3 separate regions of the Homo sapiens genome follow, and all the other regions are linked to region 2. The links come from fine-mapping of genetic effects on gene expression. A gene starts in region 2. Each other region holds a variant in brackets. All regions are shown on one strand. Distances are from middle to middle. Region 1 has its middle 23 kb from the start of WLS. Region 2 holds the start of GNG12-AS1 (GNG12, DIRAS3 and WLS antisense RNA 1). Region 3 has its middle 40 kb from the start of WLS.

What was found.
Region 1: its variant is fine-mapped to the expression of GNG12-AS1 in whole blood (GTEx, PIP 0.94).
Region 3: its variant is fine-mapped to the expression of GNG12-AS1 in whole blood (GTEx, PIP above 0.99).

What each region holds. Positions count from the first base shown.
Region 1 is chr1:68,250,398-68,261,129 of GRCh38, forward strand. No RefSeq gene overlaps it. Among named protein-coding and RNA genes, the nearest start is that of WLS, 23 kb to the left of the region's middle. The variant C/T (reference allele first, on the strand shown) is at 5,061.
Region 2 is chr1:67,827,816-67,838,547 of GRCh38, forward strand. It overlaps GNG12-AS1 (GNG12, DIRAS3 and WLS antisense RNA 1), which reads left to right and starts at 4,473. Exons shown (of 10, transcript NR_040077.1): 1 at 4,473-4,621. GNG12 (G protein subunit gamma 12) reads right to left here and starts at 5,652. Exons shown (of 4, transcript NM_018841.6): 1 at 5,529-5,652.
Region 3 is chr1:68,267,282-68,278,013 of GRCh38, forward strand. No RefSeq gene overlaps it. Among named protein-coding and RNA genes, the nearest start is that of WLS, 40 kb to the left of the region's middle. RefSeq lists an enhancer at 9,060-9,687. The variant C/A (reference allele first, on the strand shown) is at 4,419.

The DNA of each region.
Region 1 (10,732 bases), 420 kb after region 2:
TACAAAACATTTCTACCATCTCGAAGGGCTTTTCTGTGCTCACTCCTAGTTGATTATTCCTTCTTAATCCTAAAGTTGTGTGAACTTTTTTCACATTTCTCACCATCGATCTGTTTTTCTTCTTTTTGAGCTTCATAATATGTATTTGTATTCTTTCATAACTAGCATTTGCTGCCTAACATGATGTCTGTGATACTTATCTTTGTTATTGCATGTAGCAGTATTTTGCTTATTTCATTTCGTTGTGTAAATATTATCACAGTTTATATGACATTTGAGTTTCTTCCAGTTTTTGCTATTATGAATAAAGCTACTGTAAGCATTGTTGTATTTGTCTTTTGGTTGACATGACTATTCCATTGTGTTAAATATCTATGCAAAAGAAGAATTGCTGGGCTACAGAAATATGGGTGTATTTAATGTTACTGTACTGTAATAATTTTCCAAAGTAGATATGCCAACATACATTTACACTAGCAAATCAAGTTCCAATTGTTCCACATCTTCATCAACACTTAGCAGTGTCAGTCTTTTTAATTTTAGCCATTCTGGTGGGGATATATGGGTATATGATTAGAGTTTCAATATGTATTCTGTGATGACTATGCTGTTGCCTTTTGTTCATTGAGATATCCTCTTTTGTAAAATGTCTGTCCAAGTCTTTTTTCTATTTTTTAAATTGATCACCATTTTTGTCTTTACTTATTTGTAGAAGTTCTTTATATATTCTGGACGCAGATACTTTTTCAAGATTTGTATTGAAAATATCATCTCTTGGTCTGTGATCTGTCTTTTCCGTTTTTGTTTTTTTTTTTAATGGTGTTTTTCAGGAACAGGCATCAAGATTGCAAGTTTATTGAGCTTACAATCAATAAACATGTGATTTCTTCCATTTGATTTAAAAGGGTCTTTTAGAAATTTTTCTTGGCCATATTTTATCTTTTCTTTTTTGAGACAAGGTCTCACTCTGTCACCCAGGCTGGAGTGAAGTGGCACAATCATAGCTCTCTGCAGTCACAATCTCCTGGGCTCAGGTGATTACCTTGCCTAAGCCTACCCTGTAGCTAGGAATTCAGGTATGAGCCACCACTCCCAGCTAACTTAAAAAATATATATATATTATTTTTTTTGAGGTGGGGTCTGGCTGTGTTGCCCAGGCTGGTCTCGAAATTCTGACCTCAAGTGATACTCCTGCCTCAGCCTCCCAAAGTGCTGGAATTACAGTCATGAGATGCTGCACCCAGCCTATATTTTATTATTTTTAAGGAAGAGATATTGTACTACTTTTATTACTTTTATACCCAAACACAGAAAATTCCAGTGCTATTATAAAAAGTATTAAATTTTTTTTATTTTCTAGTTGTGTAGTACATATAAATAAAATTGATTTTCTATATCAACCTTCTATCCACTGACCTTACAAAATAAATGTATTCTTATAATTTGTTTGTAGATTTTTTCAATTTTTTTACATAAACAATCATGTCATATATGAACAATAATAATTTTACTTCTGTTTCCAAACTTTATAGCTTTCATTTTGTTTGCTTGCTTTATTGTATTGGTGAATTTCTCTAGTACAATCTAGAATTGAAATCACCATTATTATTTGATATTTATTTTGGAGATGCTAGCCATTGCAACTGAAGAAGAGAATAAAAAGAGAAACAAGAAGGAAACAAACTTAGAATTATGTGTGATTGATACAATTATAAATCTAAAAATTCAAATAAAAATAATTCAAGCAATAATAAAGCTAATCACAATAATTAAAAGTCAATTACTTGGCTGGATGTGGTGCCTCATGCCTGTAATCCCAGCACTTTGGGAGACTGAGGCAGGTGGATCATGTGAGGTCAGGAGTTTGAGACCAGCCAGGCCAACATGGTGAAACCCCACCTCTACTAAAACTACAAAAAATTAGCCGGGCGTGGTGGTGCGCACCTGTAGTCCTGGTTACTTGGGGGACTGAGACAGGAGAATTGCTTGAACCTGGGAGGTGGAGGTTGCAGTGAGCCAAGATTGCGCCACTGCACTCCAGCCTGGGCGACTGAGTGAGACTCCATCTCAAAAAAAAAAAAAAAAAAAAAGTCCAGTACTTTACTTTAGAATAATGATTATCTGCTAGAAAGTAGAATGGAGAAGAATATCTCATTCACAATAACTATTCTAGGAATGAATCTAATAAGAAAGCATGAAAATTTAAAATTTCACTGAGTCAAAATTTTTAAAAATGAGTTAAATGAAAAGACATCTTTTGTTTGGATAGATGAATCTATCTATCTATCTATCTATCTATCTATCTATCTATCTATCATCTATCTATCTATCTATCTATCTATCTATCTATATCTATCATCTATCTATCTATATCTGTCTATCTACCTACCTACCTATCTATTTTTTAGTGGGATTAAGTGGTTTATTCAAAGTTATCTGATTAGTAACATTTTTCTAAAGTTTATGTTCCTATGTTACTTCTCTGCATACAATTTTTTTTTTTACTTTAAGTTCTGGGGTACACGTGCAAAATGTGCAGTTTTGTTACATAGGTATACACGTGCTATGGTGGTTTGCTGCACCTATCAACCCGTCATCTACGTTAGGCATTTCTTCTAATGCTATCCCTCCCCTAGCCCCCCACCCCCCAACAGGCCCAGATGTCTGGATGTGTGGTGTTCCCTTCCCTTGTGTCCATGTGTTCTCCTTGTTCAACTCCCACTTATGAGTGAGAACATGCGGTGTTTGATTTTCTGTTCTTGTGATAATTTGCTGAGAATGATGGTTTCCATCTGATGAATCAATATTTTGAAAGAGTTATTTTTGAATTAATCTAAACTATAAAGCAATTCCTATCAAAAATATAAACAAAGTTTTTTGAAGATTTTTGAAATTTGAATGAAATGATGCTAAAATTTATATGACAAAATAAACACGTAGGAAAATATTTGAAAAGAGAAGAATCATGAGGTGGGTTGAGTACATCAGATAAAGTGTTGCTTTAAAGTATCTGAACTTTCTTTCTGACCACAAATAAACAAAAAAGATCAATGAGATAGATGAACAAATCCATAAATAATCTGGAGTAATTATCTGAGTTTAATAATAAAATGATAAAAGTCACATTTTTAATAAATGAGAAAAATATAAATTATTAAATAAATAATGTTGGTAATACTGATTGAACATTTGAAAAACATAAACCTGGATTTTACCCTTCCTTCTTCTCTATTAAGATGTGAATAAAAGAAATCCCAAAATAATAAGCAAGAACATGAATAATACTAATCCAAACATAAACTTGGTATAGGAAATGCCTTTCTAAACTTATTTCAAAGTCCTCAAGCCAAAAGAAAAAGATTAATATCTACATTTTAATCTTAACATTTTCAATTTCTATCAATTTTAACACTCTGCCGTGAAAAAAGGTCAAATAGAAGACAAGCACATATTGGGAAAAAATATTTGCAACAAATACGACAAGGCACCTTAATATAAAAAAAATTCTTCCAAATAAGTAAATAAAAGGTAAGGCTGAGCATGGTGGCTCAAACCTGTAATCCCAGCACTTTGAGAGGCTGAGGCTGGAGCATTCCTTGAGGCCAGGAGTTTGAAACCAGCCTGGTCAACATAGCCAGACCCTATGGCCTCTACAAAAGAAAAATTCAAAAATTAACTGGGAGTGGTGGCATGTACCTGTAGTCTGAGGTACTGGGGAGGCTGAAGCAGGAGGACCGTTTGAGCTTCGAAGTCTGAAGCTACAGTGAGCCATGATTGCACCATTGCACTCTATCTGGGTGGCAGAGTGAAACCCTGTCTCCAAAACAAAAACAGAAACAAAGATATATAACCCAATAGAAAAAAAGTGGGCAAAGGAGTTTATGGAAAAAATATGAGTGCGCAATTCACACCTGAAAAGATACTTAACCATATAATATTTTAAAATACATAAACTGAAGAACAAAGTGTATTTTTTTATCCAATTAAGAATATTAAAAGGTTATGTAAGCCCAAAGCTGAAGGGAACTATGCAGGTCTATATATTGTTGATAGAATAAATTATTACAAACCTTTTGTAGGAAATTTATCAACATCTATCCAAATTATTGCTGAGCATACTCTTTGACCCCCAAATTGAAATTTATCTTACCCATATGCCTGCAAAAGTGTTCAAAGATATGTCTACAGGAATTTCATCATTTTGCTGTAGCATTGCTTTGCTTTTTAAGATAGTGTTATGGGCTGAGCAGTCTTTTCCTAAAATTTGTATGTGAAAACCCTCACTCTCCGCACCTGAAAATGTGACTGTATGTGGAAATAAAGCTTTTAAAGAGGTTGTTAAATTAAGATGAGACTGTTAGTGTGGGTCCTTATCCAATCCAACTGGTGTCCTTGTAAAGAAGAGGAGATTAAGACACTGGAGGCACACCAAGGATGTGAGCAAACAGAGAAAATCAATGTGAGGGCTTAGAAATAAGGCAGCCAACTGCAAGCCAAGGAGAGAGGTCTCAGAAGAAACTCAACCTGCTGACATCTTGACCTTGGACTATTAGCCTCCAGAACTGTGAGAAAATAAATTTCTGCTGTTTAAGCCACCCAGACTGAGGTATTTTGTTATGGCAGCCTGAGCAAATTAATATAAACACTGAAAGTGAAATATTCTCAATGGCTATAAATGGAAGAAAATGTTACCAGAGGTTACGTCCGTGGTTACAGAGAAGGAAAAGATAGAAGGTAGGGAAATTTGATGTTTTAATTTATGCTTTCTTATTTTGTTTATTTTAAAATTTTGAACCTTATTGCTGCTGTAATAAAATAAACCAGCTAATTTTAAAAAGTGATAGAGAATTTGCGTCAACTTATAAAGTCCCAGAAATATGCCCAGAAATCTCCTTTGAGACCTACAAAGCTTCTATTGATTTATTTATCTTTGATTTGTCATTTTTTATGATGTAGGTTTAAAAATAAATTATTTATTTAAACTCTTTTGTTTGGTTCAGTTGCTGGTGATTCAGCAATTTTCTATTGTTCTTCTTTCATAATCTTTGGGTTTATTTCAT[C/T]TTCCTTCCAAAACTTAAGAAACCATGATTTCGTCACTCAAGGATCACATTGGGACATCGGAAAAGTCCTCCAGGTGAAGTTGAGTTATTTATTTCTGAAGAAGACATCAACCAACCTACTGTAATATGAAACAAGTAATAACCATTCGGTTGTAATAGCTCTCTATTTTAATTACACTTTAGGCCAGAAGAGTTAGGGAAAAATATATAGTAGACAGCACTGTTATTGGGCAATGTTCCACTTTAAACACAAATCCACAGCCGTACTTCAAATCTTCTTAGATACATGATTCTCAGATAGTTAAGGGAATAGAAAAATAGTGGAGTCACTAATTACTTGGCCTTAGATGTTAGTATAACTCTAATGCCAACTCTTCCCCCCTTTATTTTAGGAGACTATTGTTGAAGTCAAAGTAACTATCTCATTTTGTTTAAAAATGTGAAAGTGTGAGTTATGTAATAAAGAGACAATGGGAAGTTTGATTAACACAGCTGCAAACTGTTAAGATATTCTTTAAGAAGAGAACACTTATGGAGTAGGAGTGGATGAGATGCAAGAACTGAATGACAGAAAATGTCCTTAAGCCTTGGCATCCTCACACCTTTTCATGCTTGGCTTGCATTGGGTCTACAGGCTTCACTGATGTTATAATCCAATTGAATAAGCATTTCTCTTATGGGTTTCCTATGGATCCGGAGCTTCTGTTAGGTTCTGTGAGGGTAACAAAAGAAGTGTATGACATATATGCCTTGAAGGACATTAGGAGACATGTAGCAACAGTAGCTTTTGGCGGCCTTAAGCAGAGGGAACGCCATCCTTACTGAAGCCCTTGGTCTCAGGAGTAGGAATTACAGAGTAAAAGGACAAGAGAGGAAGGATCACAAGGGCTTGATGGAGATTTTCATCTCAAATATAAAATCCAAAAGGTTCTGAAAACCAAACTATCTTGGGGTTATTTATAATTTGTATTTATCCCACTGAATGCAGAGATATTCATATGTTTTACTGAAGAAATGTTAGTATATTAATTTGAGTATTTTATAGCAACACTTCACCTACCTTCTCCCTCATGGGAAGAAATATATTTCCCTAACGTTGTAAGGGAGGAAACCACCTCTCATATTGTCTTATGCCCAATTTCTGCCTCCAAAGAAAGAAAAAGTAAAAACTAAAGGCAGAAATGAAATCTGCAAGCAGACAGCCTGGTGCCACACCCTGGGCCTGGTAGTTATAAATTGACCCCTGACCTAATTGGTTACGTTATCTATAGATTACAGACATTGTACAGAAAAGCACTGTGAAAATCCCTATCCTGTTTTGTTCCAATCTAATTACCGGTGCATGCAGCCCCCAGTCACATACCCCCTGCTTGCTCAATCAATCATGACCCTCTCACGCACACCCCCTTAGAGTTGTGAGCCCTTAAAAGGGACAGGAATTGCTCGCTTGGGGAGCTCAGCTCTTGAGACAGGAGTCTTGCTGATGCCCCTGGCCGAATAAACCCCTTCTTTCTTTAACTCGGTGTCTGAGGAGTTTTGCCTGCGGCTGGTCCTGCTACAGCTGGACTTAGTCATATGACTGGCTTTGGCCAATGGAATGTGAGGGGAGCTGATGAGAGCAGAGGCATTAAATGTGCTGATGAGATTTGAGTTTTTTGGGTCTTTGGCCTTCCCATTATTCACCATGAGAAGGCCTGCCCCAGGGAATCAGTGATCCTGAAAGAATGAGAAGAAATACAGAACAGCATCCCCACAGAGCTATGAAATAAGAAAAACATGGTTGCTTTTGTAAGCCATCGAGTTTTGGAGTGTTTTGTTATGATGAATTATTGAGGTAATAGCTAGCTGATACAATGCTTTAGATTTTAAAATGCTACCTCAGACTCTGCTGGGGATGTTACATAATATACAGTATGTACACCACATCTCCTTTGTAAACATGCTGTCTAAAATTTTTGGTACTTTTTATTGAGGTATCGTAGTTATACATATCTTGGGGTACATGTGATATTTTGATACACATATGTAATGTGTAATTATCAATCAGGGCAAACGGGGTGTCCACCACCTCAAATATTTATCTTCTCTTTTTATTTGAAACATTACAATTCTTCCCATCTACCTATTTTGAAATATACAATACTGATTATTAACTATAATTTCCCTACTGTATATCAAATACCATAACCTATTCCTTCTACCTAACAGTATTTTGGTGCTTATTAACCAACTTCTCTTCATCTCCACTGGTTTCCTTACAGGCCCTTGGTCAGCACCATTCTACTCTCAACCTCCTTGAAATCCATTATTTTAGCTCCTGTATATGAGTGAGAATATGTGATATTTGTGTGTATGTGCCTGGCTTATTTCATTTAACATGATGACCTCCAGCCATGTTGTTGCAAATAGGACTCTTCTTTTTTATGGCTAATATTCCATTGTGTATATGTAACATTTTCTATATCCACTCATTCAATAATGGACACTTAGGTTGATTCCATATCTTGGCTATTGTGAATAGTGCTGAAATACACATGGGAATGCAGATATCTGTGCAATATACTGGTTTCCTTTCTTTTGGATATATACCTCGCCTTGGGATTGCTGGACAATATGATAGTTTTATTCTTAATTCTTTGACAAACCTTCATACCATTTTCCATAATGGCTGTGCTACTTTACATTCCCAACAATAGTGTACAGCTGTTCTCTTTTGTGGAATCCTCATAAAGATTTGTTATTTTTTGTCTTTTTAATAATAGCCATTTTAACTGGGATGATATTATATCTCATTGTGTTTTTGATTTGCATTTTCTCTGATGATTAGTGATGTTGAGCATTTTTTCATATACCCATTGGTAATTTGTATGCTTTCTTTTGAGAAAAGTCTATTTAGGTCTTTTGAAATGTCTATTTAGGTCACTTTTAAATTGGATTATTTGATTATTTGTTTTTTTGCTATTGAGTTGTTTGAGTCCCTTATATATTCTTGTTAATTCCTTGTTGGATGGGTAGTATGCAAGTATTTTCTCCCATTCTGTAGGTTTCTCCTCACTTTGTCAATTGTTTCCTTTGCTGTGCAGAGCATTTTGGCTTGATGTAATCCCATTTGTCTATTTTTGCTTTTGTTACCTATGCTTTTGAGGTCTTACCCAAAATATCTTTGTACAGATCAATGTTCTATATTGTTTCCCCAATGTTTTCTTCTAGTACTTTTGTAGTTTCAGGTCTTACATTTATGTTTTTAGTCTATTTTGTGTTGATTTTTGTATATGGTAGAAGATGGGAATCTAATTTTATTCTTCTGTATATGGATGTCTAGTTCTCTGCACACCATTTATTAAAGAGACTATCTTTTCCTGAATGTATGTCCTTGGTGCCTTTGTTGAAAATGAGTTAACTGTAAGTGTGGATTTATTTCTGGATTCTCTATTCTGTTATATTGGTCTATGTGTCTGTTTTAATGCCAATTCTATGCTGCTTTGGTTACTATAGCTTTATAGCACAATTAGAAATTAGATAGTGCGACGCCTCCAACTTTGTTTATTTTGCTCAGGATTGCTTTAGCTATTGGGGATCTTTTGTTATTTCCATATGAATTTTAGGATTGTTTTTCTATATCTGTGAAGAATTGTTGCTGGTATTTTGATAGGGATGGCACTGAATCTGTAGATTGCTTTGGGCAGTATGGATATTTTATTTTATTTTATTTTATTTATTTTTTTGAGACAGAGTCTCGCTCTGTCGCCCAGGCTGGAGTGCAGTGGCACAATCTCTGCTCACTGCAACCTCCACCTCCCAGGTTCAAGCAATTCTCCTGCCTCAGCCTCCCAAGTAGCTGGGATTTCAGGCACCCACCACCACACCCAGCTAATTTTGTGTATTTTTAGTAGAGACAGGGTTTCGCCATGTTGGCCAGGCTGGTCTCGAACTCCTGACCTCAGGTGATCCACCCGCCTCGGCCTCCCAAAGTGCTGGGATTACAGGCGTAAGCCACCATGCCAGGCCTGGATATTTTAATAATATTACACCTTCTAATCCATGAACATGCGGTATCTTTCCATTTTTCTGTGTGGTCTCTTCCATTTCTTTCATCGGTGTTTTATAGTTTTTCTATTAAAGATATTTTACTTCTTTGGTTAAATTTATTCCTATGGGGTTTTGTTGTAGTATTGTAAATAAGATTACTTTCTTGATTTTTTTTCAGATTGATTACTGTTAATGTATAGAAATGCTGCTTATTTTTGTATATTGATTTTGTATCTTGCAACTGTACTAAATTTATCTGTTCTAACAGCTTTTTGATGGAGTATTTATATTTTTTTCCAAATAAAAGTTTATATCATCTGCAAACAAGGATAATTTGACTTCTTCCTTTCCAATAAAAAGCCTTTATTTTTCCATAAAAAGCCTTTAATTATGTTGAGGTATGCTTTCTAATTTAAAAAGTAATACCAATTTTAGTTGTAAGTGTGAGAATCAAAAATTTTTTTGAAGTAAAAAGAAAGCAATCAATTACAATGTCACATTAAAAATATAAGTGAATATTTCAGTGCGTTATGGAAAAATATCAATAGAATAATGTGGCAGATTGGAGTAAACTTTATTCTTTATTCATTAAGTTATGCCTAAGCTTTGACAAGATAGTGGCTTAAAAATTATTGTTTTGATTCAATTATGATAGAAATGACTGAACTTTATGAATTTCTTTTCTTCATACTTTGGCTTCTATATGTCTATATGTCTGATGTCTATATGCACATAGGATAGGGAAGTAATTTCTGAATTTACTGGTTTCCCCATGCTGTCTTTTCTTCGTGTTGCTTAATGGAAAAAAAATTATCAGAGTCCAGGAAATGGGTAGTGTTTCTAATGTCTGGTTGAAAAAGCTGAGAAATCAGCTCCAGGTAGGGTGGCTTATGCCTGCAATCCTAACACTTTGGGAGGCTGAGGCAGACAGATCCCTTGAACTCAGGAGTTTGAGACCAGCTTGGGCAATATGGCGAAACCCCGTCTCTACAGAACATACAAAGATTAACCAGGCATGGTTACACTTGCCTGTAGTCCCAGCTACTCAGGAGGCTGAGGTGGGGGGATTGTATGAGCTGGGGAGGTGGAGGTTGCAGCAAGCTGTGATTGCACCAATGCACTCCAGCCTGGGTGACAGAGCAAGACCCTATCTCTGAAAAAAATAAAAAAAGAAATGAAAAGAAAAAGCTGAGAAATCTTAGTTGTATTAGTCACTACCTTAAATGTTTCAAAAACCAAAACAGGAAACTAATATACCAATTCACAAATTATTTCTTCAAACACTTTTGAGTCAAGTGTATAATCAAAAGACACTATATATTAGCCCGGCTAATTTTTTTGTATTTTCAGTAGAGACAGGGCTTCACTGTGTTAGCCAGGATGGTCTCGATCTCCTAACCTGGTGATCCTCCTGCCTCGGCCTTCCAAAGTGCTGGGATTACAGGCATGAGCCACTGCACCCTTGCACCCTTTTTTTTTTTTTTTTTTTTGAGACAAAGTCTTGCTCTGTCGCCCAGGCTGGAGTGCAGTGGTGCAGTCTCGGCTCATTGCAACCTCTGCCTCCTGGGTTCAAGCGATTCTCCTGCCTCAGCCTCCTGTGTAGCTGGGACTACAGGTGTGCACCACCACGCCTGGCTGTTTTT
Region 2 (10,732 bases):
ACACTTCACAACTGAGCACTTTTACGACACCCAATAAAGACTAACATGATAAACCAAACACTTAAGTGACATCAGATATGATTTTCAAGAGAGACTCTCCAATAAATGGAATAATCTAGCTACAAGTTATCTTAAGTCAAGTCACCTCCACCATCTGCCCTGGATCCATGCTACCTGTTAACTACTCTCCTGTCATTCCTAAGGGAGGAAAGTGGGGAGGTCAGGATCTGTGGGTATGTGCTGGTTCTAGAACAGGATTTAGCGAGTCAGTTCCTTCATCTGTACTATCCAGACCCCCTTTGGAAGTCCAGGGATGAAAGAGGTAGGCTTCACAGGGTCACCAAGGACTGGGCCTTTGTGTGCGCTTCAGGCCTGCTGGGTCTCAGCAGCCATTTGGAAGTGTTAACTGCTATGGCTAAAGAGTGGCAAGCCTGATGGAGAGGCACTGATGATTCTCCTCAGGAAGGTCACCTAAAAGGAGTCTCCTCCTCATGTTTCTCTTGATTAGTTTTATAGTTTTTAAGCAAAACTGACTCCATAAAGCCCACTTCACTCTCACCTCTGGCTGGATGCACCTCCATCTCCGTGCAGAGGGCATGAGATGTGGAGTTAAGATGCTTCTGGGTCAAATTCTGTCCTTGCAACTTGAGCAAGGTTCAGACCTTTAAGGAACCTCAGCTTCCTCCTCTGGGCTGTTGTGACAACTGAGCAAGACTGTATACGGGAAGAGTTTAGAAAGGGCTCAGGATATATAATATATACAATTGTGCTGTAATTAGTTTTTATCTATCCAACCTTCCTGTTAAACTAAGTGCACCAATATCTGCCTCATTACTGTCTTCCAGGTGTCTGATATACTGAAGGTGCTGTAAAAACGCAGCTCATCAAGGCAGGCCTGGATCTGGGAAGTCACAACTTCCATAAAGTCAAGGTTGGTGGACTAGGTCTATATGCAGATCCTAAAAACCCACTGGTAGACTTTTCAAATATTCTTCATGAAGATCAAACTACAAGCTTCTGAAAGGCCTTCTCTTTTACCGCTAAACAATTCTCACTGCAAAGGTTTTGACATTTAACCGAAGGACATTCAACTGCCATAAAGTTGGTGCTTTTTCCAAAACAACAATAAAATCCTGCTATTTGTAGTTAACAAGCCAGATTTGTTTTTTAGTAACTATTACGCAAATTTTTTTTAGTATTTGTAGTTAATAAACCAGATTTGTTTAGTAACTATTACACAAATGAATTATATTTTAGTATATATATAGGCGCATTGTGGAAAATAGGGGAAAAGCAGGTTGGGGGTGGGAGAGCACCATAATCCCATCACCAATTTGTCTGTATTTTCTTCTAGGCTTTTCTTATGGTTTAAAAATAATTTTTAAGCTAGCTGTAATTGTAATAACACAATGTAACTGTGCATACTGCTTTTCCCCATTTTAAACTGTAACAGACTTCATGTATTACTGATTTTTTAAAGTCTCTAATAAAAAAGAAAATGGAATTGAGATTTGGAAGAATTAACTTGTTTAACAAATTAATATTGCAAACCATTTCACATTTAAAAGACAAAATGATGATTGTCTAATTCTCTTACTTTTTAAGTACTATTTGGCAGGACTATTTAAATTACTGAGCTTTTTTTAGATTTGGGGGAAATATTAAAATTTTGTATAGCTGTTTTCCTGTTACAAAAATAATGCATGCTCATTATACAACATTTAGAGAAAATTTCAATAATTTAATGTTAACATTTATTGAATGTGGACTATGCACCAGGCACTATTCCAAATGCTATATACATAGATTAGCTCATTTATTCCTCACAACACTTATTGAAGCATAGATTAAGTAACTTGCTCACAGTCTACTCACCTAGAAGTATGAGCCAGAAATCATTATGTTATGTTCTAGGAGTGAAACGAATCAATAATTTACTCAATCAAATGCTTCAGTTGTTTCAGAGCATAATGTCATAGGCAAGAAACAATTAATAATCACACTGTACCCTTTATAGTTATTTAAAATTATTATAAACCACATCTCTGTGTCCCAGTGGAGCAATTAGTAAAATGAGAAATCATCTGTGGCATGAGCTAAGATCCTGGTTCAGCCCAATTCTGTGCACCTGACGTGCATTAGGACAAAAACAAGAAGCTTTAAAGGGTTTGTTTTAAAGATGGAGGCTTTTTTTTTTTTTTTTTTTGAGACAGAGTTTTTGCTCTTGTTGCCCAGGCTGGAGTGCAATGGCACGATCTCGATTCACCGCAACCTCCGCCTCCTGGGTTCAAGTGATTCTCCTGCCTCAGCATCCCGAGTAGCTGGGACTTCAGGCATGCGCCATCACGCCTGGTTTATTTTGTATTTTTAGTAGAGATGGGGTTTCTCCATGTGGGTCAGGCTGGTCTTGAACTCCCGACCTCAGGTGATCCGCCCACCTTGGCCTCCCAAAGTGCTGGGATTATAGGTGTGAGCCACAGCGCCTGGCAAGATGAAGGCATTTAAAAAATTTTTTAGATTTTAGGAAATGAGTCAACAATGTGATGAGTAGATTTCCTGAATTAACTGAACACCCAATCTCATGAAAGTTTACAAATAAAACAACGACTCACAATCAGCCTAACACTTCTTATGGCTTATCTGTTGGCCTTGGACATCAGCACATGCAAAAGTAAATAACCGGATACCCTTGGGTCACATGTTTTCATACTTTGATTAAGAATTACACTTGGTTAAAGATGAATACTTCTGTTCCTGGCTTAATTTCTTACCTAGGGCTAATAAACACAACTATTTGAAATATAAATTCTCTTTAAATGTAAAGGATAATGCAATGTTTCTGACTGTCAAAATTACTATGCAACTGTAACTTTAGCACTAAAAGCATATTAAAACTATTAATCCTTTAATCATAATTATTCATATTGCTGTGGTAGAAACATCACACATACACACACACAAACACACACACACCAGTTACTTTCTGTAGAATTTGAAATTGCTCTATCTAGCATTTCCGGAAGGTTCAAGCTGCCACCCTGCAATTTATCCAGTAGCCTGCTGCTTGAACAAGCTAGATAAATATCTAATAATTTTGACCATGTACTGCGTGTTAAGTCCAGTTTAAGTGTTTTCCAAAGACAAAGTTTTCATATACTTTCTGTAAAGCCCTACAGATAGAGACCATTATTATCCCCATCTTATAAATCAGACTGAAAAAGGTTAAATAGCTAATATTTTCATCTAAGTCTGTCTGACTCCAAAGCCAACACCCCAAATCACTGTTAAACAAGCTTCTCTTCCAAGTTAGGGCTCAGAAAAATTTACTTGCTTTCACAACTTGCCTTCCTAGGTTAAGCTTAAGCTGACATAAAACTCCAAAACAAAGCAAAACACAATAAATCACATAATTCTAATTTTAAAAAAAACTAATTTGATATTGGCTAACCACTTCCTCAAGTTTTCTGACCATGAAGCCCTTTGCTCTCACACTTTAATAAACCACCGATATTCTCTAACAAGTGACAACACAAATCCACAAATCTAATTGTTAGAGAGCTTTCAAGTAAGACTGGAGCTTTCTGGACAGGAAATTTTTATAATTCTATTTTTTTCAGGCTCTTGTGAAACACAGATTCACATTTTCATATATTTCTACACAAATCTAAGTGCTGTGTGCCCTGTTGGGGGTTCGATATCTAGTAAATTACATGAGTTAAATACAGCAAAAATAGGACTGCATTATTTATAAGGTCTAACGACGCAGTAGACTTTTCAGCATTTTTTGGACTTAAACCAGGGCTTTACGGCGCTGGTTAACTATTAGAGAAGGCAAAGGGACTGAACATTTTATCTGAAAGTCCTTTTATCACTTAAGACTCTGTAAAATTTTTGATTACTTTAAAAATTGTGTGTGTGAATAACGTTAGTTTACTAGAAAAGGGGCTTGCTAGTATATATAATTTGGTTAAAAAAACAAAAACAAAACAAAACAGCTCCTTACTTGAATGTGATTGTTTTGGCAATAGTAAAATTCAATCCCGTCGTTCTAGCGCTGCCTGCCTTCCTGGTTCTCCTAGGTGAGGGCCGCCATCCTGCGATAATTTACTTCGAGAGCTGCGAAGCGCTGGCAAGGGTGCAGTCTGGTGACTAGCACTTTTAAAAACAAAGCCAAACTCCGCTTTTAAAATAGAGAAGGCACAGACGCAGACCCTGCCTCTGACGACATCCAAAAGATTCATTATACACAGCCTATTCAGGCGAAGCTACAACCGCCCCAGGAAATATAAACTGTGTCGGCAAAGACAGCAGGGGGGAGAGGAAGTAACTGATGGGAAGGAAGCTAATCATGTGAAGTTTGTCCAACTCCACACGGTCTAATAAATTCCCGTTTGTTTCCGCTGGGAGCAGCCATTAAACGCGCCCTGACACGTGGGCGCAGGAACCTCCCTTCTACCTCTGGTGTTCAGAGATTTCCTTCTCGACCCACTTGTTTGTATACAACCACGCCCGGCAGGATGACCACCAGATGACCGGCCGCAGCAATGCCTCCACTCAGTCCCAGTTGGGCAAAGTTTCACTCCACTGCGGCGACGTGAACAAGAATCACGGCTTCCTTATCGTGAGTTATGAATGATTTAAGCCAAGTTTACAGGACACACAAAGCGAGGGACGAGTGAGTGACGGGAGGTGCTAAGTGACAGCGTTTTAAAGTTAGCTTTAATTGATATGCCCTAATTAAAATGAAAAACAGAATTCACCCTGCCCCACGGGATAACTGTCGGGGCAATAATTAAAAAAAAAAAAATCACCCAAGACTAAGCCTCAACCTCCCCCTTACCACTTGCAAATACAGTCTGCAGAAAAGCAGCCTCGGGTCCCCACTCGGGGGTCCCTCGCGGGGTGCGTCATATGGGCTCTCCCCTCTGCGACCCGCTATTTCCCTGCTAGACCCCCAGCGCCCAGCGGATTCCAAGGCTGCGCTCCCGCCGGCTGGTCCCGGGAGGTAGAAAGTAGGCAGAGGGGCGTGGCGTCCCTGTCGCCCCCACATGCCAGCCCTCCTCCAACGCCTGACACCACCACAAGCCACGGCTGGGAACACTGGGGGCCTCCCAACCCGGCGCGGGGCGCACGGCCGCAGGCTGGCGAGGAGGCAAGCGAGCTCAAGGGGAGACCTTTCCTTCCACCCCCAGCCCTAGCCCCAGCCACAGCCGTGGGGGCGGCTTCCCGCAACCTCGGGCGGCCGCCCGTCGAGGGCGCGCGCGCCGTTTCTGCCTCTGGGTCTCGGTGTCCCTTGGCCCCTTCCTCCCCCTCCCCCCGGTCTCCGGCGCCCAGCGCCCAGACCAGTCCCCGCCCTCCAGCAGGACACTCTTCCCTCCTTCCTTCCTTCCTCCGCTCCCTCCCTCCATCTCGCTTCCCAGCACCCGGGACTCGGAGGCGGCCCCCGAACTCGCTGGCCGACGCCCCGCGCCGCGCCCCGACCCCGCGGGGACCCGACTCACCACCCGCGCCCGCCGCTTGGTACTCACCCGCCTGCCGGTGCGCTGCCCCGCCGTCGCCGCCGGGACTCGGTCTCTAAGGGCTCCTGGAGACGGCTCCGACCTCTCCTCCTCCTCCTCCTCTTGCTCCTCCGGGCGCCGGCTCCGCCTCGCTGGGGTGGGCGGGGCGGCGGCGGCCCCGGGCTCCTTCCTCCGCGCCGGGCCCTGCCTCCCGCCCGGACGCCCTGGCTGTGCTGTCCCGGGCCGGGGAGCCCGCGTTGTGGCCCCGCAGGAGGAGGGGCGAGGCCTGGCCTGTGGAAGCTCGGTGGACGTCTGGTCGTCTTTGGCCATCCCCCTTCCTCTAATTCTCATGGAGGACCTGAAGTTCTAGGACTTGAGGGCCCCCACTCTACGACCCGCCCCCGCGCGGGGCCGCCCTGACTCCTCGCAAGTTTCCTTCGCGTGCGAACGCCTCGCTTGCCCCTGTGCCAGCGGTCCCCAGGGCTGTGAGGATGAGCGCTGCCAAACCCCTACACGAAAGTTTGGTTCTGTTCCAGAAACTATGGAGGAAAACACGCATAGTAACATTTAAAGGGCCCTGGGGCCACGGAGAGAAGTTTCCCAGAAAGTGGAGGTATAACTGCGGATTATAGAATTTGTAGTACATCCACCCACCATGAGCTTCCCGTCCATCTGCCCCGACCCCCTGAAATTTGTTTCCGAATGTCCAGTACCTGGCAGAGTTCTGCCTAATGAATTAATGGGATTTGGTTGGTCTTTTCTGGAAGGGTTCAAGGTCGGGTAAATGGAGGAGCCATTTCCGCTTCCACAGATTTTGTACTATTCCTTTGGCCATTCGACAGACATTACCAAGCACCCGCTGTGTACCAACTGCGATGCTAAAGGTGATGGGAGAGGTACAAAGATGAATCAGACAAGGGGCTTGCCTTCTTGGAGTCCAGAAAGAGTAAAGAAGCTGGATGTTCAGAAAACCACTCAGCGGACTTCTAGAGTATTCCTAGGTAGCCGCTTTCTTGTTTGACAGGGTGGAGAGAAAAGAGGTGAGGCCAAAGTAGGTCACTTAGAACCAGTGTGGGCAGAGTCCACACTTGAAATGGAGTCTGAAAGCATTGGTGAGGGATGTCTGTGTATTGAGTTTCACCAACTGAGGACAAGTGGGCCCTGGGGAATCTGGGAACTAGGGACTGCAGTCAGGGCATTATATTCCCTCTTGCTTTCCTTCTGACCCCTAAGCAAGTTTCAGGTTTAGTGAAATCATTTGCACATGTAGAAGAGGTGTCACAGGTAGAGTAGGTGTATGAATGCATGCCTTGCCCCAGGAGTGTGGTCTTAGCAAGCTGCGGATGGCGGTGGTTTGTGGGATGCAAGCCACAGACTGCCAGAGGGGTCTTTATTTCCTGTTCTGTTCAGCATTAGGAAATGCTTGACTGATTCACAAGTACTAACAGTTCAAATGATACACCTGAAACAGAACAGCTTGACACCACAGGGACTGAGAGGGTGGCATACTGGAGTTTGTATTTTTTGGCCACAGACCACAGAATAGACTCCTCTAAGCTATGCTACTAATTTTCCTTCCTGGGACACTTTATAGTTTAATAAGTGCTTTCATGTACTTACTCTTACTTTTCTCTCATTAGTCTCTTGAAAAAACCTGGAAGCTGGAACACCACATATTGCCACCAGTAACTTAAGCGGCTTGTCGAAGGTTTTTCTAGTTGAGTGCTGTTCAAAGTGTGGTTCATGGAATAGTGACAGTCTGCAAACCGTTACCCATCTACAAAGGGATGAGCATAGAAATTGAAGATGAGCATGTAGAAACTTACAGCAATTTGACAGAGTAATTTTATGTCTGTTAAATCGTTTAAAATGCAGCTTTGTATTTTATGTCTATTTCATTTTTCTTTTATGTGGAAAGGCATCAGCCTGCAACAGATTGAAAATAAAATATCACAGATAGTTTGAGAAGCACTGATCGAGATAGTATTAGGTTAGTACAGAAGTTATTACCGCAATTACTTTTGCATCAACCTAATAGCAAGGCAGGAATGATAAGAGCTAATACTTAACCAGCACTTTCTGCGTAGCAGATGTTGCTTTAAGTGCTTTACATATATTAAACCTTTTAATCCTCCTAACAACCTAAGGACGTAGTCACAGGAAGGTTAGGTCTTACAGAGCAAAACTGGCAGAGCCAGGATTCAAACCTTGGCTGGCTGACCCAATACTTTGTGCTTTTATCGATGCCCTTGATCCAGTGTCCTTTCTACTCTGCTGATGTTTCCCAAACTTAAAGGATTCACATTCCATTTTCATACAACTGTAATTCCTATTTTTTATTTATATTTCTTATTGACTCACTTTTGTTATTTTGTACATATATTACCCTGGCAGTTAGTAACTCCAAGCATGTAATCATGGGTTTGAAAAGCAAGCATCAATCTTCTACTCTAGTTTATATTAAAGTACATGCCTAATTCCAGCACTTGCTGCCAGTGCTTGGCCATACCCCCTCCAGTCCTTTTCCAGTTTCGTGCACACTGGTTCCAGGCGTGCTTTCATTCCCTCCTGCCAGCACCCACATCATATTCTCAGAGTACCAGCTCCAGCTGCAGGATTTGCTTTGCCTGGGCACAGGGCAGCTGGAAATGTGTAGAATTAATGTCCTCCACCTCCATCCCTAGCCTTTAGCCAGTGTGGAGGAATAAATATTTCAGCTCCTTTGCTCATATTTGTGATAACTGGGTGGATCTACATTGTCTACAGAGTTCCCTATGCTGTTGGGCCAAATTCCATGAGCCTGTTTGGTTTCTTATTTTTTTTTTTCTTTCTCTAGCCTTCTTTTAACTTTTTTTTTTCCTTTTTTTTATGTTCTTGCTATAAAATAGTTAATGAACTATTTTCTACCCCCTCACCCAGTGGCATTCAAAACAAATAAATCAGTTTCCTATGAAAGAGTGTCAGTGGAGTGGAGTGAAATTTATGCTTTATGAGATAAGGTCTTTGGGATTAAGTCCTGGCTTTGCCGTTAACAAGCTGTGTAAATTTGAGACAGTCACTTAACTTTGCTGGGTCTCTGCTTGTCTTTAAAATAAAGGGATTGTAAGAGAATGGCTCTAAAGTCCCAATTCTATGGAAATTAGATTTTAGTTTTAAAAAGTGGCTTTCTTGGCCATTTAATCCCTCACGAGACAAGCAAGAGAAGTGGTTTTATAATTCAGGACAGTTGTTTTTTTTTAACGAATTGCAATTCATATGTCAATCTACTGTGAATTTCTATTTAATATTCAATAACAACACTGTAGCTAAAGGATGAGTCAGAAAGAGATGGTGAAGAAATGAAAAAGTGAGGCAAATCAGTCAGTCTCTCGGTGATCAGGTCTCCACAGACTTCAGAACAATTTTTTATTTTATTTTTTTAGAGATGGAGATCTCACTTCAGAACAACATTTTTGGGATATCAGCTTTGCTCCCTGTGGATTTTATTGGTCCTATTGCACATGGCTTCACTCTTTGTCTGGACCTGCCCTGGAAGGCAGGGAGAGCTCCCTCCTTTTGAGTAGGTCACCTGGGAATAAGTGTCTTCCAAACTGGTTTTTCTGCTCAGTCGGAGACTGCCATATTTCCATGTAGAAGTTAGGTCAGGGAGAAGCACCCACAGTCTTGGAAATCCCCAAGTAACCTGTTGAAACGTGTATTGCCATAGGCAGGAGCTATGACCAAAACTGTGGCTACAGATCAGAAGGCAATTTAGCATAGTTCCACACTTACATGGGTGGAAACCTTCAGAGGCCTGGGTGGGAGTGACCCAAAATGGAGGCACCCATGCAAGTTAGTTGATTACTAACTCAATATGAGCTCTCTGGCTTATTACTGCAATAGGCCCTCTAGCTCTAGGGAGTGGAAGTCCCCAGATACTGTTGTCTAGAAATAAAACATATGGGCTCAAGAGTTAATGAATTTCCTGTCATTGGAGGAGTTCAAGCAGTGGTCTCTTAGAAAGTAGAGATTTAGAGGATATCAGCGATGCAACCCAAATGCCCATCACAAGAGATAAGATACCTCCCTCTAAAGCACTCTGAAAAAAAGATATAGATCTAAATATGTTCACATGAAAAGATGCCCTCAATGCATTCTTGAACATAGATAGCAGATTATAAACCATCATGTGGAGACGCTTCCATTCATGTATAAAAAAGCATACATACACACGAATCTCTTCTGTAAGTGTATCTGCAATGATGTTTGTCAAAATAGTAACAGTGACTTTCTCAGGGTGGTGAGATTTCAGGTAACCTACCTTTTTTATACTGCATGAATTTTTTCACAGTGAATGTGTAGCTTTTCTATAAATCATGTCTTTTTGCATATTGTAAATGTATCTTTCTTTCATAATATAAAAAGACAAAAGGCATTGTGCAGACCAGGAGTTGGCAAATTATGGCCAGAGGACCAAAGGACCACATCTTTTGTAAATAAAGTTTAATTGGAACACAACCACACTCATTCATTTCCCTGTTGTCTACGGTTGCTTTTGTTTTTACAAAGGTTAAGAGCTGAATAGCTGTAACAGAGCTTATGGCTTGCAAAGCCTAAAGTGTTTTATCTGCCCCTTTAGGAAAGAAGTGTAGCAACCTCTGGTGTAGACAATTGGACTGGAAAACGTTTTCAGCATGGCAAATTGCAACCTAGATTTTACTTTTTCAGATTTCAATTTATCTGAATTTCTATTAAAAATATGTATAGGCTGTATATTTTAAAGTATATCCCAGTTCTGAGTAGTGATTATAACAGAGCAAAGTGACAGTATTAGTATTTGGGTAGCTAAGGTCTGTATATTCTCCTTCTTCTTCCTCTTCCTTATTCTTTTCCTCCTCCTCTTCCTCTTCCTTCTCATTCTCCTGATAAGATCATCATCTTATTCTACAGTTTGCCCTCAGATGCTGTTCCACTTGAGAAAGTACCAGGAGGAGAACTGAGGTTTCTCTTTCCTGGCTTGGATCTCTCCAAGACAGAATAATTGAGGAAGTCCTTGACAAAATAAATTGTCCTGGCAGAAGAGAGGCAAAGTTCTAAAGAATAGACGTAGACCTGGAGGAGAAAAAACAGGGACGCTGAAGGAGCCCAGCTGAGGAGGAGGGGAGGGTGTCCAGCTCCAGAGGAAAGGCTGGGAATTAGATGGAGTAAATCTCTCTCTTTTCCCCTTCCCTCATCACACCCTTCCCACACGATCC
Region 3 (10,732 bases), 440 kb after region 2:
GGCAGGCGGATCACCTGAGGTCAGGAGTTCGAGACCAGCCTGGCCAACATAGTGAAACCCATCTCTACTAAAAATACAAAAATTAGCTGGGTGTGGTGACGCATGCCTGTAATCCCAGCTACTTGGGGGGCTGAAGCACAGGAATTGCTTGAACCCGGGAGGTGGAGGTTGCAGTGAACCGAGACTGCACCACTGCACTCCAGCCTGGGCATGATCTTGGCTCACTGCAACACTGCAACCAAAAAAAAAAAAAAAAAACGAGAAAAAACAGATCTGGCCTCTGGCCTCACGCATAGCTTACAGTCTAACTGGGCAGAAGATCAATGAACAAGTAATTACACAGCTGAAGAATTTTAAGAAATGAAAAGTACTTAAAAATTTTGTAGTAACATTTATTGACTGAATAAATGGAGAAAAATAAATTGAGAATTAAGCAGCTTTCCTCCAAGCCTCCAGGGCAACAAGGAACACTCCCTTATTTTCCCTTTCCTGCCTTCCTTCCTCATTGCTTTGGGTTCACATTGGTTCTTGTGCCTGTGAAAGAGGAGTTAGATAATTAATCAGCTAAAAATAAGGATTCACAGTTAATGCACTTGGAAAGGGATCGAAAAGGAACTTGGCAAGATAAAAATACAGTCTTGCACTGCATAATGTCATTTTGGTCAATGACAGACTGCCTATAGGATGGTGGTTCCATAAAATTAAAATGGAGCTAAAAAATTCCTATTCGCCTAGTGACATTGTAGGCATCATAACATTGGAGCAAAACACATTACTCACACGTGTGTGGTGATGCTGGTTGCAAACAAACCTATTGTGCTGCCAGTTGTAGAGCACATATGATTATGTGCAGCACATACAATGATGTGCGGTATATAATACTTTGATAATAATAATAAACTTACTGGTTTACGTATTTACTGTACTATATTTTTATCATTATATTAGAGTGTACTCCTTCTATTTATAAAAATAAAAAGTTAACTGAAAGATGGTCTTAGGCAGGCCTTTAGGAGGTACTCCAAAAGAAGGCACTATTATCACAGATGAGAGCTCCAGGTGTATTATTGACCCTGAAGACCTTTTAGTGGGACAGGATGCAGTGGTGGAAGATAGTGATATTGATGATCCTGCCCCTATGTAGGCCTAGGTAATGTGTGTTTTTGTGCTTAGTTTTTAACTAAAATGTAAAAAAGTTAAAAAAAAATGATAAAAGTAGAAAAAAAGCTTACAGAATAAAGATAAAAAAATAAAATATTTGTGAACAGCTGCAAAATGTATGTTTTAAGATATGTTATTACAGAAGAGTCACAATGTTAAAAAAATTGAATTTATAAAGTAGATAAGTTACAGTGAGCCAAGGTTAATTTATTATTAATGAAAGAAAAATATTTTAAAACAAATTTAGTGTAGTCTAAGTGTAGCGTTTGTAAAGTATACAATAGTGTACAGAAATGTCCTAGACTTTCACATTTATTCACTACTCACTCACCAACTTACCCACGGCAACTTCCAGTCCTGCAAGTTTCATTCATAATAAATGCCTTATATAGGTGTGTTATATGATATTTTATTTTTACTGTATTTTCCTATTTTACAGTTTTCCTATGTTTAGATACACAAACATTTACCATTGTGTTACAATTGCCTGCAGTATTCAATATACTAACATGCTGTACAGGTTCATAACCTAGGAGCAATAGACTATACCTTATACCTGAGGTGTTAGCAGGCTATACCATCTAGTTCTGTGTAAGTTCCCTCTATGATGTTTGAATAACAGCAAAATTGCCCAAGGATGCATTTCTCAGACGGTATCCCCATCATTAAGCAATACATGACTGTAGTTACATTTTGGTGAAAAGCTTGTGGCTTACTTTCTTTTCCTTGATATTAACGTATTTGTTGTACAATATATTAAAATTGGGAATACAAAAGGTGTGTTTGTGTGTGTGTTAATCTTTTTAATCACTTTCTATGGGAAGCGAGATTGCATTTCATGTGCACGTGCCAATCTCTCACTGTTGCTCACTGGGAATGACTAATATCATTTTTCTTCCTTCTGGCCTAATGCAAACAAGCCACTGTGACATCCAATTTCTGATTTTTGGTCAATAGAAGGCTCAGATTTCTATTTTTGTATTGCCAAACAATTTGCAGCTTTAAATATTATTTTTGTTTAGTATTCACACATGATAATTTTTTTGGAGGTATCAGTCAAAGGCCAAAGCCTTTTCCACACAATACCACTGACCTTCCTTCAAAATCCATGGATGCAAAAGGACAGATAGTGGAGTGATAATTGGTGAAATAAAGAGGGAGTTGCTCCAGACAGGAGACGAAAGTTGCTGCTATTGAGACCAAGAAATGAAACCAAACTGTTTATCTATTACTGTATAAAAAGCTAACCCAAAAGGTAGTGGTTTAAAACAGCCATATTTTTGCCCATAATTCTCCAATTTGGGCAGAGCATGGTGGTGGCAGCTTATCCCTGCTGTGTGGTGCTGGACAGGGTGACTCACCTGGGCTGGAGAGTCTATGGTGACTTCACTCACACGTCTGGGGCTCCAATGGGGGTGGCTGGAATGTGAGGTATGGCTGGGCTTGTTTCTCTTTATACAGCCTCTCTGTGCATCATGGTCAATGAACTCTTTATCAAACAGCATCCTATTAAATCATTTGATTCTCACATTAATCTCTAAGGTTGTATCTTAAGAACTGAAAAAGAAACGGAGCCCTTTTACTTAGTCTTGTTTTCCCACTCAACCTGTATTTTTCTTGGAACTTATATGTATTTACATATTTCTGTATGCAATTTATTTACTTTAGTTTATTGTAGGTATTCTTATAAACTGTCCTAATTCTGCAGTACAGATACAAAGATAAATATGTGGTTTGTTACATAAATATGTTACTATTTATCTATCTTAAATCAGGCTCAGGGAGGTTTAGTGACTTGATCAAGGTTACATGCCTAACGCATGACAGAGCCTAACTTGGTACTCAGCTTTTCTGAACCTGTGAGAGCTAAATAATAAAATCCTAATCATATTATCTATTTTAGATTTTCTTAAACTCCTAGGTTATAGAAGGATCACATAATTATTAAACAGAGAAAAAAATTGAATATAGCAAATAATTTTTTTTTTTTTGAGACAGAGTCTTGCTCTGTCACCCAGGCTGGAGTGCAGTGGCACTATCTCGGCTCACTGCAACCTCCACCTCCCAGGTTCAAGCATTTCTCCTGCCTCAGCCTCCTGAGTAGCTGGGATTACAGGCACCTGTCACCACACTCGGCTAATTTTTTGTACTTTTAGTAGAGATGGAGTTTCACTATGTTAGCCAGGCTGGTCTTGAACTCCTGACCTCATGATCTGCCTGACTCAGCCTCCCAAAGTGTTGGGTTTACAGGCGTGAGCCACCACACCCGGCAGCAAATAGTTACATACCTTTTTAATTAGGTATAGTCACCATGTTGTACAATAGAGCTGTTGAACTTATTTTAACTAATTTGAACTTACCTAACTGAAATTTTGCGTCTTTTGATCAACATTTTCCTAAGCCCCCTACACTCTCTAGCCCCTGGTAACCACCATTCTACTCTCTACTTCTCTGAGTCCAACTTCTTTAGATTCCACATGTGAGATCATGTGGTATGTATCTTTCTGTGCCTGGCTTATTTCACTTAACATAATGTCTTTCAGGCTCATTCATGTTGTCACAAATGACACAATTTCCTTCCTTTTAAAGACCAAATAGTATTCCATTGTGTACATATACCACATTTTCTTTATTCATTCATTCATTGCTGGACACTTGGGTTGATTCCATATCTTGGCTGTTGTGAATAGTGCTTCAATGAATGTGGAAGTGCAGCTGTCTCTTCTATTGCACATACTGATTTCATTTCCTTCAGATATATACCCAGTAGTGAGATTGCTGAATCATATCATGGGTTCTATTTTCAATTTTTTGAGGAACCTCCATATTTTTTTTTCATAATGGATGTTCTAATTTACATTTCCACAAACAGTGTATAAGGGTTGCCTTTTTTCCACATCCTTGCCAACATGTTATCTTTCATCTTTGCAATAATAGCCATTCTGATAGCTGCGAGGTGATATCTCTCACTATGGTCTTAATTTGCATTTCTCTGTTGATTAGTGATCCTGAACATCTTTTTCATATACCTGTTGGCCACTTATGTGTCTTATTTTGAGAAATACCTATTCAAACCATCTACCCATTTTTGTATTAGATTGTTTTCTTACTATTGAGTTGTTTGAGTTTCTTATATATTTTGAATATTAACCTCTCATCAGATGTATAACAGATAATTTTACAAAGTAATATCTTATTTAAACTTCAGTTTACTTGAATTCCATTCAGTAAATACTTATTCAGCGATTACTCCATGC[C/A]AGGTGCTGATCTGTGTGCTTAGAACACATCTCTGAACAAAACAGATATTCCTGCCCTTGCAGAACTTACTTCCTAAAAGTGACATTTAGTAAACAAAACAACCAAATCATTTTACTGTGGGAAGAAGAATTTGCTAATGTTGTTGTGCAGAGATTGAGCAGGAACTTATAGTGATGATTTCATGGTATTATGAAATGATTTCATGGTTTTTTTGTTTGTTTGTTTGTTTGTTTGTTTTTTGAGACGGAGTCTCGCTCTGTCTCCCAGGCTGGAGTGCAGTGGTGCGATCTCGGCTCACTGCAAGATCGGACTCCCGGGTTCACGCCATTCTCCTGCCTCAGCCTCCCGAGTAGCTGGGACTACAGGCGCCCGCCACCACGCCCGGCTAGTTTTTTGTATTTTTTTAGTAGAGATGGGGTTTCACCATATTGGCCAGGCTGGTCTCGAACTCCTGACCTTGTGATCCGCTCGCCTCAGCCTCCCAAAGAGCTGGGATTAGAGGCGTGAGCCACTGCGCCCTGCCGGTATTAGTTTTTAAAAATATTTTTGTTAAAGAAAAATTCAACTCTGCCAATCTCTACTTAATTGAGAAATCTGTGTGAGCTTTACCCTTGGCTATGTCTCTTTAAACCCTTGAACTTCTCTGTCAATGATTTTTATGCAGATTCACAATTAAAATTCTAAAGTGTTCTTCATGTCCCCACCACTACTCCTCTCCTCTTAGGCTGACCCTGAAAAGACAGACTTCCAATGCTTCATGCATGGCCCTTAATTTTATTCTTACTCTTCACAGTTGAACACAAATATCAGCTTAAGTCCAATAATAATCTATTTGAGATGTAGATCTGCCATTTAGGGGATATCTTTTATTATGTCACAATCACTTTTTTGTTATGGCTTTTCACATATTAGAAGGGCAAATGCGATTAGCTATTCAAATAATAGAACAAGCAAAAATTGCTGCATAAAGATAATGATGCCATCCGAATTGAACCTAGGAATCCTGGCCGAAGGCACCACTAGTTGAGAGTTCAAATTCATGCTCATTGGGTGATGTGTGGAAGCTGATATTAATTTAGTACTTTGAGTGTCAATGTGCAATGTATAAGATTTCACACATTAAAAAAATACAAATTTGAAGCAGGGCACAGTGGCTCACGCCTGTAATCCTAGCACTTTGGGAGGCCGAGGCAGGCGAATCACGAGGTCAGGAGTTCTAGACCAGCCTGACCAACATGGTGAAACCCCGTCTCTACTAAAATTACAAAACTTAGTTGGATGTGGTGGTGGGTGCCTGCAATCCCAGCTACTCAGGAGGCTGAGGCAGGAGAATCATTTGAACTCAGGAGGCAGAGGTTGCAGTGAATCGATATTGTGCCACTGCACTCCAGCCTGGGCAATAGAGCGAGACTCCATCTCAAAAAAAAAAAAAAAAAAAAAAGATAAAAATTTCGAAATTTGAGAACCATCTTTATGAGAACAGCTCCTGATCCTGAAGTTCTTACAATTCAGCTCTGAAGGCCAGATAGATATTTTAAAATGTCAGGAAACAATAAGGCCACAAGGGGAAAAAACAAAGAAATGATACAAAATGATACAAGGACCAAACCGATGAATGGAGTAGGAAACAGGATATTTTGATGCAGATGATATAGTAGGTGCTTGATAACATTACCTCATTTAATCTTCATGACGATACAGTTTTACTAATTAGAATTTTGAATAACATGCAAGGGCCATTAAGGAAATTTCTTATGGACATATAGTTAGAAAGAAAAAAAACCAGTTTGCCTACCTTTAAAGCTCAAATGATGAACATTTAAATTGATTAACAATTCAAATTGCACTGAATTCAATTGAATTGAACATTTTCCAGGTCTTTCCAGTTTTTTCATAAGGCTTTGAAGATACCATGAAGGAATGTACCTGGAATTAGAACCACCAGATTTTGAACCCTGACTGTGCTACTTCCTACTGGTAACACTTTGCATCAGTCAGTTTCACATCTTCAAAATAGAAAGGACGATACCTACCACATATGCAGCCTATGGGTACATACTAGACATCTCTGTGAATGGGGTCAACAAAGTGCTTGGTTCACGGAATGCCCTGAGTAAAAACATGCAAGGTGAACAAGGCCCGATCGTTATTCCTTCTCTGTTTGAGGCTGGAAACAATGGAAAATCAACAGTCATCCCAGTCTGGTTCTTACAGGTTCAAGAAGAAGAGGAATAGTTATCCTAGTCTGGTTCACAGGCTCAAGAGATGCTTGAAACAGCTTTCTAAATGAGGTTTGGGAGTTCTTGTGGATTGCAATTACCCATCTTACTGCTGGACCTCATTAGCACATGTAATTGGAAACTGGCTCTGTATAATAAGGACAACAGGAGTCTCCAGCTCTGAGGCAATTACTGTGGTGTTACTCACTCTCCATCCCCTCATGAACACCCCAGCAGTTGCTCCTGAGACACAACCTCGGAAGCCAGGGAGAAAGAACCGAAATTCTCCCATTACTGTATTTCCTGTGGGAGTCTATGTGGGAGATTTTTGTTTCACACCATGTATTTGTGACATATGGATAAACAATGGCAACATAAAAGATCTTACAGAAATCTTCAATATTGGTTTCCTCAGAACACACATTCTTAATGGGGGACAATGTTGCCGCCACGGAGGTGAAAGTTGGTTATTAGGAAGGTTAAAAAAAATCTTAAATATAAAAATGTTTTGTGGCCCCTCATCATACGTAAACAGATATAAGGCATATATGTGGTATTAAAATTTCGTGGGGAGGGAATGATCAGAAAAGATCTAAAAAGTCTACTTAATAGGCAGAGAGTAGGGATAAAAGCGGGGAAAAAGGTTGAGATAACATGGCCTTAGAAAGAGTGTGAAGTTCTCCAGATCAGTTTTTGGCTCCAGAAAAGAGGCAGAAGATAGCTATTCTTGCTGCTCCATTCTCTGTTACAGATGGTTCTGGTTCATTATGACAATGATTAAAGGGGAGAGTTCTGAAGACAGGCTGCTTGTTTTGAAGCCCAGTTCAGTCAGATAGATCTGTATCATCTTGAGCTGGTTAATTAATGTCTCAATGCCTCATTTTTTTTCATCTGCAAAATGACTAGTGTAATATTGAACACTTCATGTTGTTGTGAGGGATGTAGGACTAAGTGTACATTTTCAAAAAGATAGGAGCAGAAGACATTCTGCCTTTGTGAAAGAGCTCTGGTTCCCTTTAATCCACATTCTCTAGGTGATCAAATCCTTGCAACATAGTTAAAAAAAAAAAACAAAAAACTTTGGGCAGGGTGCGGGGGCTCATGATTGTAATCTCAGCACTTTGGGAGGCCCAGGTGGTAGGATCACTTGAGGTCAGGAGTTTGAGCCTGGCCAACATGGTGAAACCCCGATTCTACTAAAGAAATACAAAGATTAGCTGGGCATGGTGGTGCACATCTGTATTTCCAGCTACTCAGGAGGCTGAGGCAGAAGAATCACTTGAACCTGGGAGGTGGAGGCTACAGTGAGCCAAGATCGCACCAATGCACTCCAGCCTGGGCGACAGAGTGAGATTCCATCTTAAACAACAACAACAACAATGACAAAAAAAAAAAAAATTGACAATTTTCAGAAATAGAAATATAGAGTAGCTAGAAATAGAATATATGGTTGGGGCGGCAGCTCACTCCTGTAATTCCAGCATCTGGGGACGCTAAGGTGATCCCAGCCTCAAGGAATCCCTTGAGTCCAGGGGTTCGAGGTTATAGTGAGATATAATCACACCACTGCACTCTAGTTGGTGACAGAGCAAGACCCTGTCTCTTATGAACAACAACAAAAAATACAGAATATAGAAAAGAACAGACGTAGTATATATTTCCATAACATGAAGGGTTCATTCATGTTAGTATTTTGTCATATGTATGCTCTATCTTTATTGTATAAAATTTAAAATTATGCAAGTTATATATATATATATTTACACACACACACACACACACACACACACTCCCTTTGTTCCTTCTATACTCCCAGTCCTACCATAATGAAGCACAGTTTTTGAAAGTGCCGACTGACTGCCTGGTATGATTTACTGAGTGATGTTCTTTCTGAACGGGTAGACTGAGGGACCAGCCATCTCCAGATTCATAACTCTCTACCCAAACAAGGTAAATGTTTCATTCAGATGAAGGCCAAACTGACATTTTCTCCATTAATTGGAACAACATTTCTTATGCACCTATTATATGCCAGACATTTTTGAACTGGGAGCAAAACTGTAGCTCCAGGCCTAGACATTAGTTTTTCAAAATGAAAATCCAGGTAGCTGGAGTGAGTTAAGTCAGTCTTCATACTTGAGGTGACGTTCCAGATATGTCTCACAAATGCTAATGGATAACTCACTTCTATTAAAAACAAATCCTAAAAGCGAGGTGTGATGACATGCACCTGTAGTTCCAGCTACTCAGGAGGCTGATGTGGGAGGATCACTTGAGCCCAGGAGTTCCATGTCAGCTTGGATGACATAACAAAAGCCTGTTTCTAATAAAATAAAATAAACCCCAAATCTCATGGTGGCATTGGAATTATTTGCAGACAACTCAGTCCTTTTGGCTTTCAAAGTAGGTCTCAGCAAAGGAAGACGCAAGCTACTGGTTTAGGATTAAACCTGGGGAATCAGACTGGTCTGGACACTTGGTTTGCCAAGAGGCCTGGTAGTGGAGAATTCTGTGACTGGCAAATGCCTAGGAGGCAAAGGAGTGAAAGTCTTGAGTTCTGAGAGAGACAACCTTTGGGTTCCTTAGGCACTAGGCAGTGGCCCAAGGCACTGGGATCTTATGTAAATGGCAGAGCGCCCCAGGAGCTTCAGGTATGCTTATCTGCTCATCTAATGGAGCCAAGGAGACAATCTGTTTAGATAACAGGTTGCAAGAGATAATGGACTCTGCTGGGAATGGCATGTTCCCTCCTGGGGGGTAACCCTTAGATCTTGGAATTTGGCTGAGAGAAGGAGGCAATGCATGGTGCTCCTGCAGAGGTCTGAAAAACAGCTGTGGAGTGCCTCACATGGTTTTCATCATGGCCTGAAAGTGTTCTCTCTCTCCATTGCCCGCCCCACCCCCCAACCCATTTACTCTAAAAGTAAAAATAAATATGTTAAATATTTTGGAACCACCCACTAAATAGTAATTATAGATGGTAGTAACTAATTACACTATTATCTATCACTTTTTAAGTGCTTCTGGATGGCCAGACCCAGTGTCAGGCTGCTCTCATGACCCTGAGAATCCAGAGGAGGGGTCTCCATGTGACACATAAGACTTGCACAGGTAGAGAACTTCATTCTTTCATTCACTTGCCCACTATTCGGGAAATGTTTATTGAGCCTTTTCTATATTCTAAGAAACTGTGCTGGTGCCTCAAAGAGTTCATAATTTCCCACAACAAACAAGGGGAAGTGATATAACTAAAAGTTACTTTGATTTTATTTTATTGAAATTGGTGGAGAAGGATGGCCTCTATACCAGAGAGGAAATGCTGCGGCACTGGGTTTTTAGCACAAGTCAAAAGAAAAAAATCTCCTTAAACAAACTCTGGGGTGGAAGGAGGTGGGATGGGGAATATATGGAGCTAAATGTATTTTTGGAACCTGCAAAGAAGAAAAAAAACAAAACCAAAAAGCCCAACTTAGTACTTCTTTTTCCAGGGTTCTTTCCTTGGTCTGTTTCCTAGCATCTTGTGCTAGCCTCTATCTTAGAACAGTATTTGTAAAATACTTACTTGTCTGTTTCCAACAAACTGCAAACAGATTATAGTCAGACTCCTTGCAGGTAGAGGATATTTTATTTAACTTTTTTTCTCTAGTACCTGAAGCATTTTAAAAAGCTCTTTTAATTTGAATGAAATGAAAAGATGACTGACTGAATGAATAAATGGATGGATGAATAGATGGTTGGAAATCTCTTTTAATTTAAATAAAATGAACGGATGACTGACTGAATGAATACATGAGTGGAAGCATGGATAGATGGATGGATGAATGGATGGATGGATGGATGGATGGATGTATGGATGGATGGATAGATGGATGGATTTCTCTTAGGTGATTCTCCTGTACACATAAGCAGAGACATACAGATTCACACGGAGAACAAAATCACACAGATTTATATATATTCCCAGAGAAACACACATATAAAGACATTGTTCTCATTACCAAAGCCCTCCTTTCTCTTGGCCTAGCCATCTTATGTGGCCACTTCACCCATCCCCATTCATCTTCTAAGCTCAATTCTATCAGCTAAGCCCCCTC